Regions from separate parts of the Homo sapiens genome. Here region 2 is linked to region 1. The links come from fine-mapping of genetic effects on gene expression. Tissue or cell type: anterior cingulate cortex. Region 1 holds a variant in brackets; the other region holds the start of a gene. All regions are shown on one strand. Distances are between the middles of the regions.

Region 1 (8,182 bases):
GGCTCACTTGAGGTCAGGAGTTTAAGGCCAGCCTGACCAACATGGTGAAACCTTGGCCTTACTAAAAATATAAAAATGAGCAGGGAGTGGTGGCAGGCGCCTGCAATCCCAGCTACTTGGGAGGCTGAGACAGGAGAATTGCTTGAACCCAGGAAGCGGAGGTTGCAGTGAGCCGAGATCACGCCACTGCACTCCAGCCTGGGTGAAAGAGTGAGACTCTGTCTCAAAAAACAAAACAAAAACAAAAGAAACCTCTATTGTGTGGCTATACCACATCTTGATCCCTCCTCTGTCAGTGGACACTTCAGTTGCTTCCACCTTTGGGCTATAGTGAATAGTGCTGCTGTGAACATGGGTGTTTACCAGCTAATACGTTTTGGGTGTTGCCATGTCTTTATGGCAACGTTGAGGATGTCTTTATTTATTTATTTATGTACTTATTTTTGAGACGGCGTTTCGCTCTGTCACCCAGGCTGGAGTGCTGTGGCACTATCTAGGCTCACTGCAATCTCCGCCTCCTGGGTTCAAGAGATTCTCCTGCCTCAGCCTCCCGAGTAGCCGGGATTACAGGCATGTGCCACCACACCCGGCTAATTTTTGTATTTTTGGTAGAGATGGGGTTTCACCATGTTGGCCAGGCTGGTCTCGAACTCCTGATTTCAGGTGATCTTCCCGCCTCAGCCTCCTGAAGTGCTGGGATTATAGGCATGAGCCACCGCACCGGGCCTGAGGATGTCTTAATAGGGAGAAGGGGAAGCATTGAGCTGAATGAGGTTTGGACGGTCTGGAAAAGCACATCTCGTTTTCCCCTTGCCTCCTCCTTTTTTCCTTTCTTCTCTCATTTCTCCACCACCTTCCCCCCCGCCCTACCAAGTAGGGAGCTTTTGCTCTGGTGTAACCCATTCTAAGCACCCTAAATCCTATCTGGGTAAGGGGTAGTGAGAAGTCTGTGGCTCCATTGTGCAGGTGGGAAAAGTGGCTCTAAAGGTCATAGCAACTTTCCCAGAGCCACCCTGCATTCCAGGAACAGTCAGCACTCGGCCCGGGTCTGTATTCACTTCCGAAGCCTCTTTCCATGAGAAAATTCCTGGATATACACTTCTATCTGCCCAGCTACCAGGGGCCGGGAAGAGTCCTGTGGGGCAGCCCTTGGGCCTCTCCTGGAAGGAACAGTTTACTTTGGGAGGAGGCCAGGGCTGGGCGGGGACCCCCAAGCACTCAGCCTAGGGGGAAGTGATTGTGTTTATTTATGTGGCAGGTTGGCAGGGCCCAGGCCTGGGGGATGGGGGAAGTTGGAGAATAAAAGAAAATGTGAATATCTGGCTGGAATGGCCAGGGGGAGGAAAGTCCCTCCCCAGTCCCTATTTATAGGCTTTGTGTCCTGCAGGTGAGAGACCTGCCAGGAGCAGAGCAGGGGCCAGGTCACCCCGGGGTATACCGTCCCCCAGCGCAAAACTGGGTTAATGCCTCAGGGAGATTTCCGTAACCTAAGTCCAAGGGAAAGTCTGGCATGGGTGTTCCCTCCTCTCCCTCCCCACCCTACAGTGGCACCTGAGCCTCAGGTTCTCTCGGCCCTCCCCCAGGGTGGTGATCATGAACTCGATCCTGGAGCGCATGTGTGCCGACGTGCTGCAGCAGACAGCCACGCAGATCAAGTTTCCCTCCACCGGGGTGGACACAATGCCCTACTGGAACCTGCTGCCCCCCAAGCGGCCCATCAAAGAGGTGCTGACGGACATTTTTGCCAAGGTGCTGGAGAAGGGCTGGGTGGACAGCCGCTCCATCCACATCTTTGACACCCTGCTGCACATGGGCGGCGTCTACTGGTTCTGCAACAACCTGATTAAGGTACTTGGGCTGGAGTGGCTGTGGGCCGACATGGGTCCTGTCCCCTGGCTCCCCACACCTGGCCTGGTCTGCCAGGCTTCCCTGAGAGGCTGCCGTGAGCCAGGTGGCCTCCCCGGAATGCCTCGCCTCAGAGTTGCCTCCTTGGGGAGCTCTGGCCAGAGACTGGGATTCAGCCTGAGGGGCGGAGCAACATCTGGGGCCCCCTCTGCGGGCCTTACTGGACAGCCATGCTGGGGTGGCAGGGTGTAGGAGCCCCAGATCCCGGGCCCCTGGCTCCTGAACTGCCCCCTTTCCTGCGCACTAGGAGCTGCTGAAGGAGACGCGGAAGGAGCACACGCTGCGGGCAGTGGAGCTGCTCTACTCCATCTTCTGCCTGGACATGCAGCAAGTGACCCTGGTCCTGCTGGGCCACATCCTACCTGGCCTGCTCACTGACTCCTCCAAGTGGCACAGCCTCATGGACCCCCCGGGCACTGCTCTTGCCAAGTAAGATTCTCTTCAGAGCTTGCCCTGCTCCGGCCACCCAGGGTCAAGCACCCCTCGCCTGGTGCCACCCTGGGAGACTGGGCTTTGGGGAGCCCAGTCAGACACAGAAAGCTCCTGGGGCACCTCTCACTGTCCCCCTTTTTCTGGAACCCTTTGCCAGGCTGGCCGTGTGGTGTGCCCTCAGTTCCTACTCCTCCCACAAGGGACAGGCGTCCACCCGCCAGAAGAAGAGACACCGCGAAGACATTGAGGTAGGCCCCCCAGCTGCCCTCGCCGGCTTCACTTGTTCACCGGTTTGTTACAGCATTTCCTAAGGATTCCCCAGGCAAAGGGAAGCAGTTGTGGCCCCTGCCCTTGGGGCAGCTGTGCCTGGGCATGATTGGTCAGGAATCTGCATGGGTGATTTGTGTGGCCCCAGCTTGCCCATGGGCACAAGGGGCCTGTCAGATTGTGGGAGGGGTTGAGCAGAGAGGGGCTGAGGCCCTGCTAGCCATGCTGACCTCGCTCAAATCGGAGCTCAAGCTCTTTTCCCTGACAGCTGGAAACTGGGGGGTTTAGGGGTGTATAACAGTGACTTTCACTCCCTCTAGGATTATATCAGCCTCTTCCCCCTGGACGATGTGCAGCCTTCGAAGTTGATGCGACTGCTGAGCTCTAATGAGGACGATGCCAACATCCTTTCGAGCCCCAGTGAGTGTGTGGGCTGGCCGCGCGCCGCTCCTTTTCCTGGGAATTCACTCCCCGATGC[T/C]GCCACTCTGCCGCTGCCCCAGCTGCAGGCATCTTTGCAGCTGGTCAGAGAGGGTGTGGCAGGGACCTGCTGTTCTAGCCCCCAAGGGGGTGCTCTGTGTCCTGCCCCTGGAGAAGAGGTTGCTGTTCTCACTCCCTGAGGGTTGAAGCTCCTCTGCCCAGGTCCAGCCCAGCCCACAGTTGTTCCCCCACAGCCCTCCTGCCCCTCCCTTACCCCAGGGTTGAGGGGATGACAAGCTACCCAAGTGAGTGAGTTCACTGCCTCAGGCACAGCCTGTGCCATTGACTCACCAGCTCTGACCTTCCTTCCTTCCTTCCCCCAAAACATGCCCGGAGAGGCCCGGGCTGGGGCATGGGGCTACTCCCCACCTTCCTGCCTAAAGAGCACACCCCCCACCAACCACTTCCCTGGAGGTCATCCTTTTCACTGTCCCCTCCTCCCTGCCAGGCTTACTGCCAAGGGTTCCTTCTGTGGCATTTTTCCTGTTTCCAGAGATTTCTCCTGAGCCTGAACTTTTCTCTGAAGCCTTTTAGGAACTAGGGGACCAACTATACACTTGATCAGAAGAAAGATGCTAGGTTTGCCAGCTACAAGTGCTGTGACCTTTAGCTAGCGACTGAGCCAGCCCCCGTCTGGGTCTCCTCATCTGTAAATGGGGTGTTGTGAGGAGTAAGCAGCTTAGGAAGTACCAAGATCGGCCCCTGGCCCTGTGTGCTCACCACATGTTAGTTTTTCTCTCTCATTCCATTGGGATCTCTGTATCTGAGGTCCCTCTGTGCCCTTTTTTTGTTTTGTTTTTTGTTTGTTTGTTTGTTTGTTTGTTTGAGTTGGAGTCTCCCTCTGTTGCCCAGGCTGGAGTGCAGTCGCACGATCTCAGCTTACTGCAACCTCCGCCTCCTGGGTTTAAGCAATTTTCCTGTCTCAGCCTCCTGAGTCTCTGGGACTACAGGCGCCTGCCACAACGCCTGGCTAATTTTTGTATTTTTAGTAGAGACGGGGTTTCACCATATTGGTCAGGCTGGTCTCGAACTCCTGAACTCAGATGATCCACCCGCCTTGGCCTCCCAAAGTGCTGGGATTACAGGCGTGAGCCACCACGCCCAGCCTGTTTTTCTGAGACACGGTTTTGCTCTGTTGCTCAGGCTGGAGTGCAGTGGCACCATCTCGGCTCACTGCAGCCTTGTTCTCCTAGGCTCAAGCAGTCTGCCTCAGCCTCCCGAGGAGCTGGGACTACAGGCGTTGGCACCACACCCAGCTAATTTTTGTATTTTTTGTAGAGATGAGGTCTCGCTAGTTGCCAAGGCTGGTCTCAAACTCCTGGACTCAAGCGATCCTCCTGCCTCGGCCTCCCAAAATGCTGGGATTACAGGTGTGAGCCACTGTACCTGGCCTCCCTTTGTGCTCTTGATCTCAGGGTCTTCTCTGGGCTCTCCATGTACCAGTTACCTCCGATGGGTGAAGGTCGGGTTGGGGCATCCCCGGGGAGCACCACTTTTGCACTCGGCAGGCTGTTTCCCAGCGCTCCATCTGCTCCGTCCCACAGCAGACCGATCCATGAGCAGCTCCCTCTCAGCCTCTCAGCTCCACACGGTCAACATGCGGGACCCTCTGAACCGAGTCCTGGGTGAGTTCCCCACCCCTGCTGCCGAACCTGGGGCTAAGCTGGACGAGTCTCTCTTCTCATGGAGGCTGGGAGACCTTGTCAGCTGGAAGGGGCCTTGCGGTGCCCCTCCCTTCCCTCTCCATGCCCCTCATTGTTGGCTGTCCTGGCCCCCAGGCTCCTGTCTAGTTCCCCCTCCTCCCCTCCCCAATTGCCTTTTATATTTTCTCTCTCTGACACCCCATTTTGGGGACATGCTCAGCATGTGTTTCTTTTCCCTTTTCAGTCCCACCTTCTCCCAGAGTGTGACCTCACCCACTCTCATGGAACTCCCTCCTGTCACTCTCCCCCCACTCTCTACAGCCAACCTGTTCCTGCTCATCTCCTCCATCCTGGGGTCTCGCACCGCTGGCCCCCACACCCAGTTCGTGCAGTGGTTCATGGAGGAGTGTGTGGACTGCCTGGAGCAGGGTGGCCGTGGCAGCGTCCTGCAGTTCATGCCCTTCACCACCGTGAGTACCACCTTCCCGGCTCTCCTGCTGGTGCTGGGGCCTCGGGGCAGCCCTTAGAGCAGGGAGGGGCCTCCTTCCCCCTGGGACAGCACACCCACCACCAGCCGTCCCGCAAGCAGCATCTGTCTGTCCGTGGCAGGTGTCGGAACTGGTGAAGGTGTCAGCCATGTCCAGCCCCAAGGTGGTTCTGGCCATCACGGACCTCAGCCTGCCCCTGGGCCGCCAGGTGGCTGCTAAAGCCATTGCTGCACTCTGAGGGGCTTGGCATGGCCGCAGTGGGGGCTGGGGACTGGCGCAGCCCCAGGCGCCTCCAAGGGAAGCAGTGAGGAAAGATGAGGCATCGTGCCTCACATCCGCTCCACATGGTGCAAGAGCCTCTAGCGGCTTCCAGTTCCCCGCTCCTGACTCCTGACCTCCAGGATGTCTCCCGGTTTCTTCTTTCAAAATTTCCTCTCCATCTGCTGGCACCTGAGGAGAGTGAGCAGCCTGGACCACAAGCCCAGTGGTCACCCCTGTGTGCGCCCGCCCCAGCCCAGGAGTAGTCTTACCTCTGAGGAACTTTCTAGATGCAAAGTGTGTATGTGTGTGTGTGTGTGTGTGTGTGTGTGTTTGTGTGTATTTTGTAATATGTGAGGGAAATCTACCTTCGTTCATGTATAAATAAAGCTCCTCGTGGCTCCCTTTGTGACTGTGTGTGCTGTTGGTATTGGTGCCACCCGGGGCAGGGCATAGTGTCCTCTCCCTGGACTCCTGTGCTGTGGCCAGGGAACGGCTCACTCCTGTGGTGAGGAGGAGGAGGAAGAGGAGCAGAGGCGGCAGGGCTCAGGGTCCTATGTGGGCTTGCTCAGCTGGGGAAGGGCCAGGGGAAAGCAGCTTCCCTTCCTTGGAGCCAAGTTGGCTGGCCTGCTGCCCCCTCCCCCAAAGCCAGCTGTACCCTGAAAGGGGAGAGGCTTTGGCTCAGGGCCCCACAGTGCTGGGGCAGGGTGGCCTGCTCTGCTGTCTCCCGAACCTGGTCCAACACCACCCACACTCTGACTAGCCTGGGATTTGATCTGTTGCCTCCAAAAAAGGACTGGGGGATGGGAGGCGGGGGGATGAGGGGCCGGACCTTTCTTTAACCCTTCCTTGCCTGCCTCACACATCTCTGAGCCCCTAGATGGATGACTCCGAGCTGGCAGTGGGAACTTCTGACCCTGCTTTCCGAGGAGCCACGGGCAGGGGAGGTGGGAGGGACTGAGGAGCTGAGGAGGAGAAGGTTTGGGCAGATAGTGGACTGGGGACTGGTGGGGGTACCCCAAAGCCACACAGGAGTCTTTGGCTGCAGGCAGGCCTCACACCTGTGGTGCGGTCGCTGCCCCCCCTGCTTGCCACAGCTCCCCACCCTCCTGGGCTGTGAGCTTAGCGCTCTTCAGCCCAAGGCTGCCACAAGCAGGAAGTGACCAGCTGGGGCGAGTGCAGAGACCGAGTCTGAGGAGAGAAGCTCTGACCCCAGTGGTCACCTTGAACTTGGCTTCCACTTTGTGGGCAACTTGATGGATGGGCTCAAGTTTATGGAAGATGGTAAATGACAAGCCTGGTGCAGATGCTCAGCACTCCCTGGCTTCATCTTGTCTGGCTGTGTCTGGCCTGTTAAGCCCACCCAGACCCCATGCCCTCTCCTTTCCGGGTTCCCATGGTCCCTGTGCCTCTGTCTTCCCTGCCAGGCTTTGGCTGCTCGAGTGCAGATTCCATGTCTGCCTTGTTCCCTGCTGTGTCCCCAGCACTTAGCCCAGCGTCTGCACAGAGTAGGTGCTCAGATAAATATGTGCTAACGGAATGAATGTCAGACGAACTTGAGAACTTTCCTCCTCCTCCCTGGACCTCCTCCCCAGACCTCCTCCCCGACCTCCCTCTGGCCTCTCCCACCCTTCAGCCACCTCCCCAGCCCCTGGCCAGGCACCAGCTGGACTCAAGAAGGAGGAAGGACGTGACTGGAGGCAAACACTTTATTATCCTGAAGTTCAGTTACAATGTGACAGTGGAGGGGACACTGGTGAGTGGGGGGTGAAGAGGTGGAGGGTGACAGTGGAGCTTCCTTTCACACACAGGCCTGACATGATTCCTCCTGTCTGCTCCCTCCCACATCCCCAGTCCCCGTCCAGCAAGGCAAATGTCCAGGCACCTGCCTGGCCCTAAAAAGAGTCACAGTCCTGACCCTCGTGGGGGCAGGGCAGGTGTCCCGAGGCCACCCAGAAAAACAGGAGACGCGTCGGTGATGTTCGGGAGTCAAACCATGTCCCAAAAGTCTTAAGAAGAAAAACGAGATTCCCCAGCAAATTCGTGGGACCCCAGGGCCATGCCTCCCAGCTCTGGCCACCTCTGCTTGTCCAGGGGCCTCACAGCCAAGGGGATGCAGGGGCCGCTGTGCAGTCGGCTGAGGCCAGAGTGAGGGGTGCAAGGACCCAGATGGGGAACACTGCTGTTTAAATATTAAACAGGGATTTCTTGTCTCCCACGTGGGAGACCTGATACTCTCAAGGGTCCCAGGTGGGGACCCTCAGGACCAGGGGCTCACAGCGGCTCATCCCAGTGCCCATTGCAGAGCCAGGGCTGGGGAGCAGTCATAGTAATAAATACTTGGTATTTACCTATCTACCTCCCAGTCCAGGGGATGGGAGGACAGGAGCTTTTTCTCACTGCTACAGGCAGGAGAATGAAACTCAGAAATGCAGGGAAGGACACAGAGGCCTGGGGCTCCGTTCTGCTCTTCCCTGTCTTTAAATATGAGGCTTAAATAGACATAAATATTAAATAGAGATAAATACATGGGATGGGGAGGGCTTGGCTCAGGGCTGGGCAAGGTGGCGTAGAACGCGGTACGACACCTCCAGGAAGCTCTGCAGATGGGAGGCAACCAGGACCCCTCCTGCCCGGCGCTGGAAAGCAGAGGCGAAGGCCGGCATGGCACCCTGGGTGGGCTGCAGGGCAGGGGCCATTCCCAGTTCTTCC
Region 2 (8,165 bases), 34 kb before region 1:
AGGATCTCTTCAGGTCATGAGTTCAAGACCATCCTGGGCAACATAGTGAGACCTCCATCTCAAAAAAAAAAAAAACCAAAAACAAAAACCCACAAATTATCTGGGTGTTGTGGTGCAGACCTTCAGTTCTGGCTACTTGGGAGGCTGATGCAGGAGATGAGAGACTGGCAAATTAGCAATTACCTGGTAAGAGAAAGTGGCCACTTAATTCTCCCCTTTGTCCCATCAGGCGCTATTGCTATGGGTCACAAAAGAGGGAGCCAGGGAAGGGACCAGGCCTGGCTGAGTCTTGCTTTTGGTAGCTGAGGTGAGAAATGGAAAAGGAAGCTGACACCTTTTCCAGGCTGTCTTTCAGGGTTTCTCCTAATTTTATTCATTAATCTGACACTGTTTTTTTTTTTTGTTTGTTTGTTTTTTCCTGATGGAGTCTTGCTCTGTCACCCAGGCTGGAGTGCAGTGGTGTGATCTTGGCTCACTGAAAGCTTGCCTCCCGGGTTAACACCATTCTCCTGCCTAAGCCTCCCGAGTAGCGGGGACTACAGGCACCCACCACAATGCCTGGCTAATTTTTGTATTTTTAGTAGAGACGGGCTTTCACTGTGTTAACCAGGATGGTCTCGATCTCCTGACCTCATGATCCGCCTGCCTCGGCCTCCCAAAGTGCTGGAATTACAGGCGTGAGCCACCGCACCCAGCCTGACACTTTTTTTTTTTAAGCATTTAATATGTGCCAAGTATTAGATTCCCCAAATGCTCCCAGCTTCTGGTTTCACTTTCCCTTAGAGTCTTCTCATCCTATCTTTGCCAGCAGGAGAGAGGAGAGGAGGGGGAGCAGGGAAGTCTCCTTTACCATCAGAGTTTGGGGCTTACCTTTCCGCAGTTCTCCCACTCCAGTTAAAGGAGGGGATAGGGTAGTATGATATGGAAGCCAAAAGTATAAAGCAGAGCAGCTCTCAGGGCCTGGAGGGAGGGGCCATACAAAGGAAATGGCAGGCTGCCCTCCCTTCCCAGCCACTGTCGGCCTCAGGATCACAGCACTTCTCTTTGTGCTGGGAGTATGGAGAGGGAAGGCATCCTCCAGGGTGTTAGAGGGGAAGCTATTCCAAGAGTTGATTCAAATTCTGCCTTTCACTCTCCTGGGGCAGTGGGAAGACAGAGACAGGCAACTGTGGGGGATCCAGGGGTAGTCCCTGAGTCCCTGAGGTGCAGCCACCTTGCAGACCTCTTTCCCATCATTCCCTCCCCCAGATAGACAGAAAGCAGGGATTTTGATTTGGTGACTGGTATGAGGAGGAGACTGGTTTGGAGCCAGCTGTGTATAAGTGTTTGGGAGTGACTGTCTTTCTTTTCCCATCCACCTGCTGCCCATAGTGGGGGGACCCAGGCAAGCTTCCAGAGGAAAATGTTCCACTTAGGGAAAAGGAATGACTCAGTTTCCCTATGGAGAGAAGGGAAGCTGACACCCTCTGTGCCTTGTATGCTTTACCAACGATTTCAGTGTTTCTGGGTTTTTGGGTCTGGACTCTTGCCACTTTTCTTTATACTGTTTTCTAGCCTAGATAGATAAGGAATGTTCCCTTCCCTTTGGGTACCCAGAACCCTGTTCCTTGCCACCTCTTACCCCACTCTGGCCTAGCTGCTTTTCTGACACTTCTCCAGGGTTGCCATATCACTCTGACTGGTTGACTTCCACCTTCCCCTCTTCTCTCTCTAGCCAAGGTAGGCAACAAGATGAAGAAAGAGGTTGGGGCTCAGGACTAGGAGGGCAGAGATGGGAGTTCGGCCCCTGTCCCTGTTGAGAGGAAATGAACAGCAAAAGAAAGTGGGGTAAGTAGGACGGGGCTTTGAGATGGGCTGGAGGGCTTTTTTTTTTTTTTTTGAGACGAAGTTTCGCTCTTGTTGCCCAGGCTGGAGTGCAATGGTGCAATCTCAGCTTACCGCAACCTTCGCCTCCTGGGTTCAAGCAATTCTCCTACCTCCATCTCCCGAGCAGCTGGGATTACAGGCATGCGCCACCATGCCCGGCTAATTTTGTTTTTTAGTAGAGATGGGGTTTCTCCATGTTGGTCAGGCTGGTCTCGAACTCCTAACCCCAGGTGATCTGCCTGCCTTGGCTTCCCAAAGTGCAGGGATTAGAGGTGTGAGCCACCGCGCCCGGTTGGGGGGCTGTTTTTTTGTACACCCAAAGGAAATGTTAGCATCTCTCTTCACCCTTTGGAGGATTATCATGGGGTCCCGGTCCTGTGCTTGCAGTGAGCCAGAGAGCCCAAGGGGGTCCCTAGGAAGATATTGTGGTGTGGAAGGAAGAGGTGATATAGGAAAGGCTGCCTCTGATGTTTACAGACTAGAGAGGCAGGGAGGTCAAAGTGGATAAACTAAAAATGGTCCTTGCCCAGAGCTAAGGGAGCCTTTGTACATAGGAGTCCAGCCTTTGGGGAAACCTTGCCAAGCCTAGAGAAAGGGCTGCTGGTGGGAGGTGGGGAGACAGAGAAGGCAGATGGCCTGACTACAAAAGCCGCCTCCCTGTCACTGCGAAGTGGGGAGGAGGCACCTCCCTAGAAATCTGCCAGGCTCCCTGCCAGAGGGAATGGTTTGAGCTCAAAATATCACCATCCTCAGGGCCCAAATAGTCCCCAGTCCTGTGTGGACCGGACACACAGTTGACAGCTTCTCTCCAAGAGAGGCAGTTTGGGCTCTGAGGTATGCGACAGGGGCTCCAGGATGATCCAGGAATGGCTCCAGGTGGAGGGCCTTAGGCTGTGGCTACAGGCACAGAATGACAGCAGGGGAGCAGGCAAAGGTAGAGTGAGGGGCCTGGGAGAACAGGGGAAGTCAGATATGTGAGAGACTGAGGAGAAGCAGGGTTTGTGGCAGTCTCAAGTATGAGTGGAGTGGCCGGGGGTCATCTGGAAGGTGAGGTGAGGAATCCGTATTTCCCTCCTTCCTGCTTTAGAAGCTTTGGCAACATATATTTGGCAGCTGTTTTGTATACACACTATTCCCCAATGGTGTCACTTGGGCAGGCACAAAGGGAGCCTAAGAGAGGGGTGTGGATTGAATGTATGGGGAGGAAGAAAGGCCATAGGCAGTACCAACCGCAGGAGGACATGATCTGACCCTCCTTCAGCCACACTCTCCCCTTTGGAACAGAAGTTCTTGACTCCCTGTTTAGACCATTCTCCAGACACCCAGGGCGCTGTAATTCTCTGCCCAAATGGCCACAGTTTTGCTTCCAGAGCCTTAAGTGGGCTGCTCTCCCAGATTTATCCTCCCGAGGACTGATTTTGCCACTCAAAGGGTGAGCAAAGAATGGTTGTTGGAGGCTAGGCACGGTGGCTCATGCCTACAGTCCTAGCACTCTGGGAGGCCAAGGTGGGTGGCTGAGGTCAGGATTTTGAGACCACCCTGGCCGACATGGCGAAACCCTGTCTCTACTAAAAATACAAAAATTAGTCGGATGTGGTGGCACACGCCTGTAATCCCAGCTACTTGGGAGGCTGAGGCAGGAGAATTGCTTAAACCTGGGAGGCAGAGGTTGCAGTGAGCTGAGACTGCGCCATTGCACTCCAGCCTGGGCAACAGAGCAAGCCTCCATCTCAAAAAAAAAAAAAAAAAGAATCTTTGTTGAGGAATACAGATTGAGCTTGAACTTGTGAACTAGGATATTGGGCCCTGGCTAAAGGCCTCCATGTTTATTTATTTATGTATTTTGGTAGAGCTGAGAGTCTCATTATGTTGCCCAGGCTGGATTTGAACTCCCGAGCTCAAGTGATCCTCCTTTCTCAGCCTCCCGAGTAATTTACTCTTATTCCTGGTTGTAAATGTTAGGGATGACCAGTCCATAGCATGGGGAGGGATGAGGGCTATGCATAAGAAGGCTCAGACATTGGAGCCTCCAGAGGTGGGTAACATTTGCTTTCGGGTTTCTCACTGGGGGAAGGAAAGGCTATGGCCAAAGCCCTGGGCATAATTTATATATGGATCTTTGGGATAAGCAAGATTTAAACAACAACAACAACAACAACAACAAGAAACTTAAAAAAACAAGTTTTTAATTTACAGGAAAAAAATGGAAGGTAATAGAGGGTCCCCACATATTCTGCACCCAATTTCTCTTTTTATTAACATCTTAGCATTAGTATTATGCATTTGTAACAACTAATGAACTAATATTGATACATTATTATTAATTAAAGTCCACCCTTTATTTAGATTTCCTTAGTTTTTACCCAGTATTCTTTTTCTCTTCCATGATCGCATTCAGAAAACCACATTACATTTAGTCATCAGGTCTCCTTAGCCCTCTTAGTTGTGACAGTTTCTCAGAATTCCTTTGATTTTGATCACCTTCACCTTAGTTTCCTCTTTACTTTCCCTTGTATCCAAGCTGTATGGAGGGCCTGGAGATTCTGATAGGACTGTAAGATTCGGGGACGGTGATATGTGTGCAACTAAGGCACCTCGGTGTCGCTTTTAGAATATAGTTGTGGAAATGAGAATAGCTCTGGTAGCTCCAGGGGCTTAGGAGAACAGAAAGAGCCCAGGAAAGGAGAAAGACCTTATTGCTGAACGCCACACCCTTGCCCCCACGCCACACCCTTGCCGCACCTACTAACTAGGGGCTAACGAATGAAAGGGTGTCGGAATATGATGGAGAAGCCCGGTCGACAGTGACGTCGTGGGCGACGCCGGGTTGTGAGCGGCCTTTCGAGCTCCCTCGAGTCCCTGAGTCTCTGTAGTGCCTCAGCTCCTGGATGTCCTCCCTTAAAGGAGAAGAACAATGCGGGCCGACTAGACGAGTCCCTTAGTTTCCTCGCCGGCGCAGACAAATACGGTTTCAGTCCAAGGAACTACCATTCCCAGAAGACAGCGGGGCGTTCCTTGCTGCATTTCTATTGGTTGGCGTTTGTTACTCCCAGCCAATAGAAAGTGAGCTTCTTGACAAGTGCCAAAATGGCGATGCCTACCACCTAGAACTGGATTGTGCGGTAGGCTTAAATTTGGGGAGGTGGTGGATGAAAAGGAAATTGGGAGGTATAGTTACAGGGCTGGAGAAGGTGGAGGAAATGAGGGAGCAAATCTGGACTTGGAATGGTGGTGGCCAAGGGACGCTTTTAGAGCTAAGGGCGTAATTAGGCAACCAGGACTGCCTTAACTCCTTGATGCCCTGTTTAATCTATTAGTCCCTTTGATACTTCTTTATTCATTTATTTGAGAGACGGAGTTTTGCTCTTGTTGCCCAGGCTGGAGTGCAATGGTGCGATCTCGGCTCACCCCAACAACCTCCGCCTCCCGGGTTCAAGCGATTCTACTGCCTCAGCCTCCCGAGTAGCTGGGATTACAGGCATGCACCACCAAGCCCGGCTAATTTTGTATTTTTAGTGGAGACGAGGTTTCTCCATGTTGGTCAGGCTAGTCTCGAACTCCTGACCTCCGGTGATTCGCCCGCCTCTGCCTCCCGAAGTGCTGGGATTACAGGTGCGAGCCACTGCGCTCGGCCGATACTTTCTTAGTGCCCCAGTTTAAGGAAGGGCGGTTCAGGAGGAGAGAGTCTGACAGGATCTTACTTTATCCCTTTAGCTCTTTTTCTTTCAAATTCCTCTGTCTCGCTTAAATCTTCCCGCATCTTCTCCTTTCTATTTAATTCTGCCTTCCCCGGTTCTCCTTAGAACCTCATGTCCTTTTCTTTAGCTCCATTTCTTTCACCTCAAAGCTGGCCGCCACCGCTGCCACCTGCTCAGAGTGAAATAATGAAGGTGGTCAACCTGAAGCAAGCCATTTTGCAAGCCTGGAAGGAGCGCTGGAGTGACTACCAATGGGCAATCAACATGAAGAAATTCTTTCCTAAAGGAGCCACCTGGGATATTCTCAACCTGGCAGGTCTCAAGTGAACTGGGAAAGAAAGATGGGAGGGATAAACCCAGAGAAGTTGTAATCACTCAGTTGTGTTTTGCTATTCCTCTTGCAGATGCGTTACTAGAGCAGGCCATGATTGGACCATCCCCCAATCCTCTCATCTTGTCCTACCTGAAGTATGCCATTAGTTCCCAGGTAAGCTTCCCGCAAACCCCCACCAAGAAGTGAGAGTTCTGGGGGTAAAAAACTTGGAGTGCATTTGGGCCCCGGTGGTTCATGGCTGTAATCCCAGCATTGTGGGAGGCTGAGGCAGGCGGATTGCTTGAGCCCAGGAGTTCAAGACCAGCCTGCGTAACATGGCAAAACCCAGTCTCTACCCAAAAATACAAAGAGTTACCCCTGCGTGGTGGTGCCCCTGTAGTCCCAGCTACTTGGAAGGCTGAGGTGGGAGGATCACCTGAGCCCTGGGAGGTCGAGACTGCAATGAGCCATGATCCTGCCACTGCCCTCCAGCCAGAGCAACAGAGTGAGACCCTGTCTCAGGAAAGAAACAAACAAACACAATTTGGGGTGCAGTTGTACAATTGTCAGCTTACTCTTTCTAGATGAAAGAGTAAGATTCTAGATTGATCTGTTTGAACAGATCATTTCAGTGAGTTTCAGTGTTCTCATAAAAATAATACTTCATTTGTTGTGATGAATATTACATTCACTTATTCTGCTGGGAGTGGTAGCAGGTAGCACAGGCCTGTGGCCCCACCTACTCAGAAGGTGGAGGTAGGAGGCTTGCTTGAGCCCAGGAGTTTGAGGCTACAGTGAGCACTGATTGTGCCACTGCACTCCAGCCTGGGCAACAGAACAACACTCCGTCTATTAAAAACAACAACAAGCAAAAGAAAAAAAGAGGATTACATTCACCTATTCTATCAACAAATACTCATGAATGCTTTTATGTGCCAGACAGTGCTTAGCCCCTGGGGAATATAGCTGTGAACAAAACCCGATGTCAGTACACAGAAAATTTAGTGGGTAATATAGACATGTAAATAAGCAGTCACTAGATGGGTTTATGATAAAGGTTAGGATAGAGTACAGATGCTCCTCAACTTACAATGGGGTGATGTGCTGATATACCACTCATAAGTTGAAAATGTACTTAATACACATAACTTGCCAAAGGTCATCTACCTACCTTTTTTTGAGTCAGAGTCTTGCTCTATCGCCCAGGCTGGAGTGCAGTGGCGTGACCTCGGCTCACTGCAACCTCCGTTTCCCGGGTTCAAGCGATTCTCCTACCTCAGCCTCCCGAGTAGCTGGGACTACAGGTGCCTGCCATCACGCCTGGCTAATTTTTGTATTTTTAGTAGAGACAGGGTTTCACTATATTGGCCAGGCTGGTCTTGAACTCCTGACCTTGTGATCCGCCCGCCTTGGCCTCCCAAAGTGCTAGGATTACAGGTGTGAGCCACCGTGCCTGGCCATCTACCTACCGTAAATGTGCTCAGAACACACTAGCTTACAGTTGGGAAAAATCATCTAACACAAAGCCTGTTTGTTTGTTTATTTATTGAGATGGGATTTCGCTCCTGTTGCCCAGGCTGCAGTGCAATGGCTTGATCTCGGCTCACTGCAACCTCTGCCTCCTGGGTTCAAGTGATTCTCCTGCCTCAGCCTCCTGAGTAGCTAGGATTACAGGCGTCTGCCACCACACCCGGCTAATTTTTGTATTTTTAGTAGAGATGAGGTTTTACCATTTTGGCCAGGCTGGTCTCGAACTCCTGACTTCAGGTGATCCACCCACCTCGGCCTCCCAAAGTGCTGGGATTGCAGGCATGAGCCACCACGCCCAGCCTTATTTTTTATTGATTGATTGATTGATTGAGGCAGAGTTTCGCTCTGTCACTAGGCTAGAGTGCAGTGGCGTGATCTTGGCTTACTGCAACCTCTGCCTCCCAGGTTTAAGTGATTCTCGTGCCTCAGCCTCCTGAGTAGCTGGGACTACAGGCGTGTGCCACTATGCCCAGCTAATTTTTGTATTTTTAGTAGAGATGGGGTTTCACCATGTTGGCCAGTATGGTCTTGATCTCTTGACCTCGTGATCCTTCCGCCTCGGCCTCCCAAAGTGCTGGGTTTACAGGCGTGAGCCACTGTGCCCGGCCGCCCAGCCTTATTTTTATTTTTTGAGAAGGAGTCTTACTCTGTCACCCAGGGTGGAGTACAGTGGCACAATCTTGGCTCACTGCAACCTCTGCCTTTCGGGTTCAAGCAATTGTCCTGCCTCAGCCTCCCAAGTAGCTGGGATTACAGGC

The links. PIP is the estimated chance that this variant, and not a neighbour inherited with it, causes the effect.
Region 2: MED24 starts here. The variant in region 1 is fine-mapped to the expression of MED24 in anterior cingulate cortex (GTEx, PIP above 0.99).

What each region holds. Positions count from the first base shown.
Region 1 is chr17:40,016,797-40,024,978 of GRCh38, reverse strand. CSF3 (colony stimulating factor 3) reads right to left here. Exons shown (of 5, transcript NM_172219.3): 5 at 7,166-8,182. The coding sequence ends at 8,020. MED24 (mediator complex subunit 24) reads left to right here. Exons shown (of 26, transcript NM_014815.4): 20 at 1,584-1,848; 21 at 2,153-2,334; 22 at 2,495-2,585; 23 at 2,925-3,024; 24 at 4,626-4,706; 25 at 5,046-5,194; 26 at 5,334-5,875. The coding sequence ends at 5,450. Among named protein-coding and RNA genes, the nearest start is that of CSF3, 5.4 kb to the right of the region's middle. The variant T/C (reference allele first, on the strand shown) is at 3,083.
Region 2 is chr17:40,051,184-40,059,348 of GRCh38, reverse strand. MED24 (mediator complex subunit 24) reads left to right here and starts at 4,941. Exons shown (of 26, transcript NM_014815.4): 1 at 4,941-4,988; 2 at 5,714-5,880; 3 at 5,969-6,051. The coding sequence starts at 5,751. RefSeq lists an enhancer at 4,682-4,741.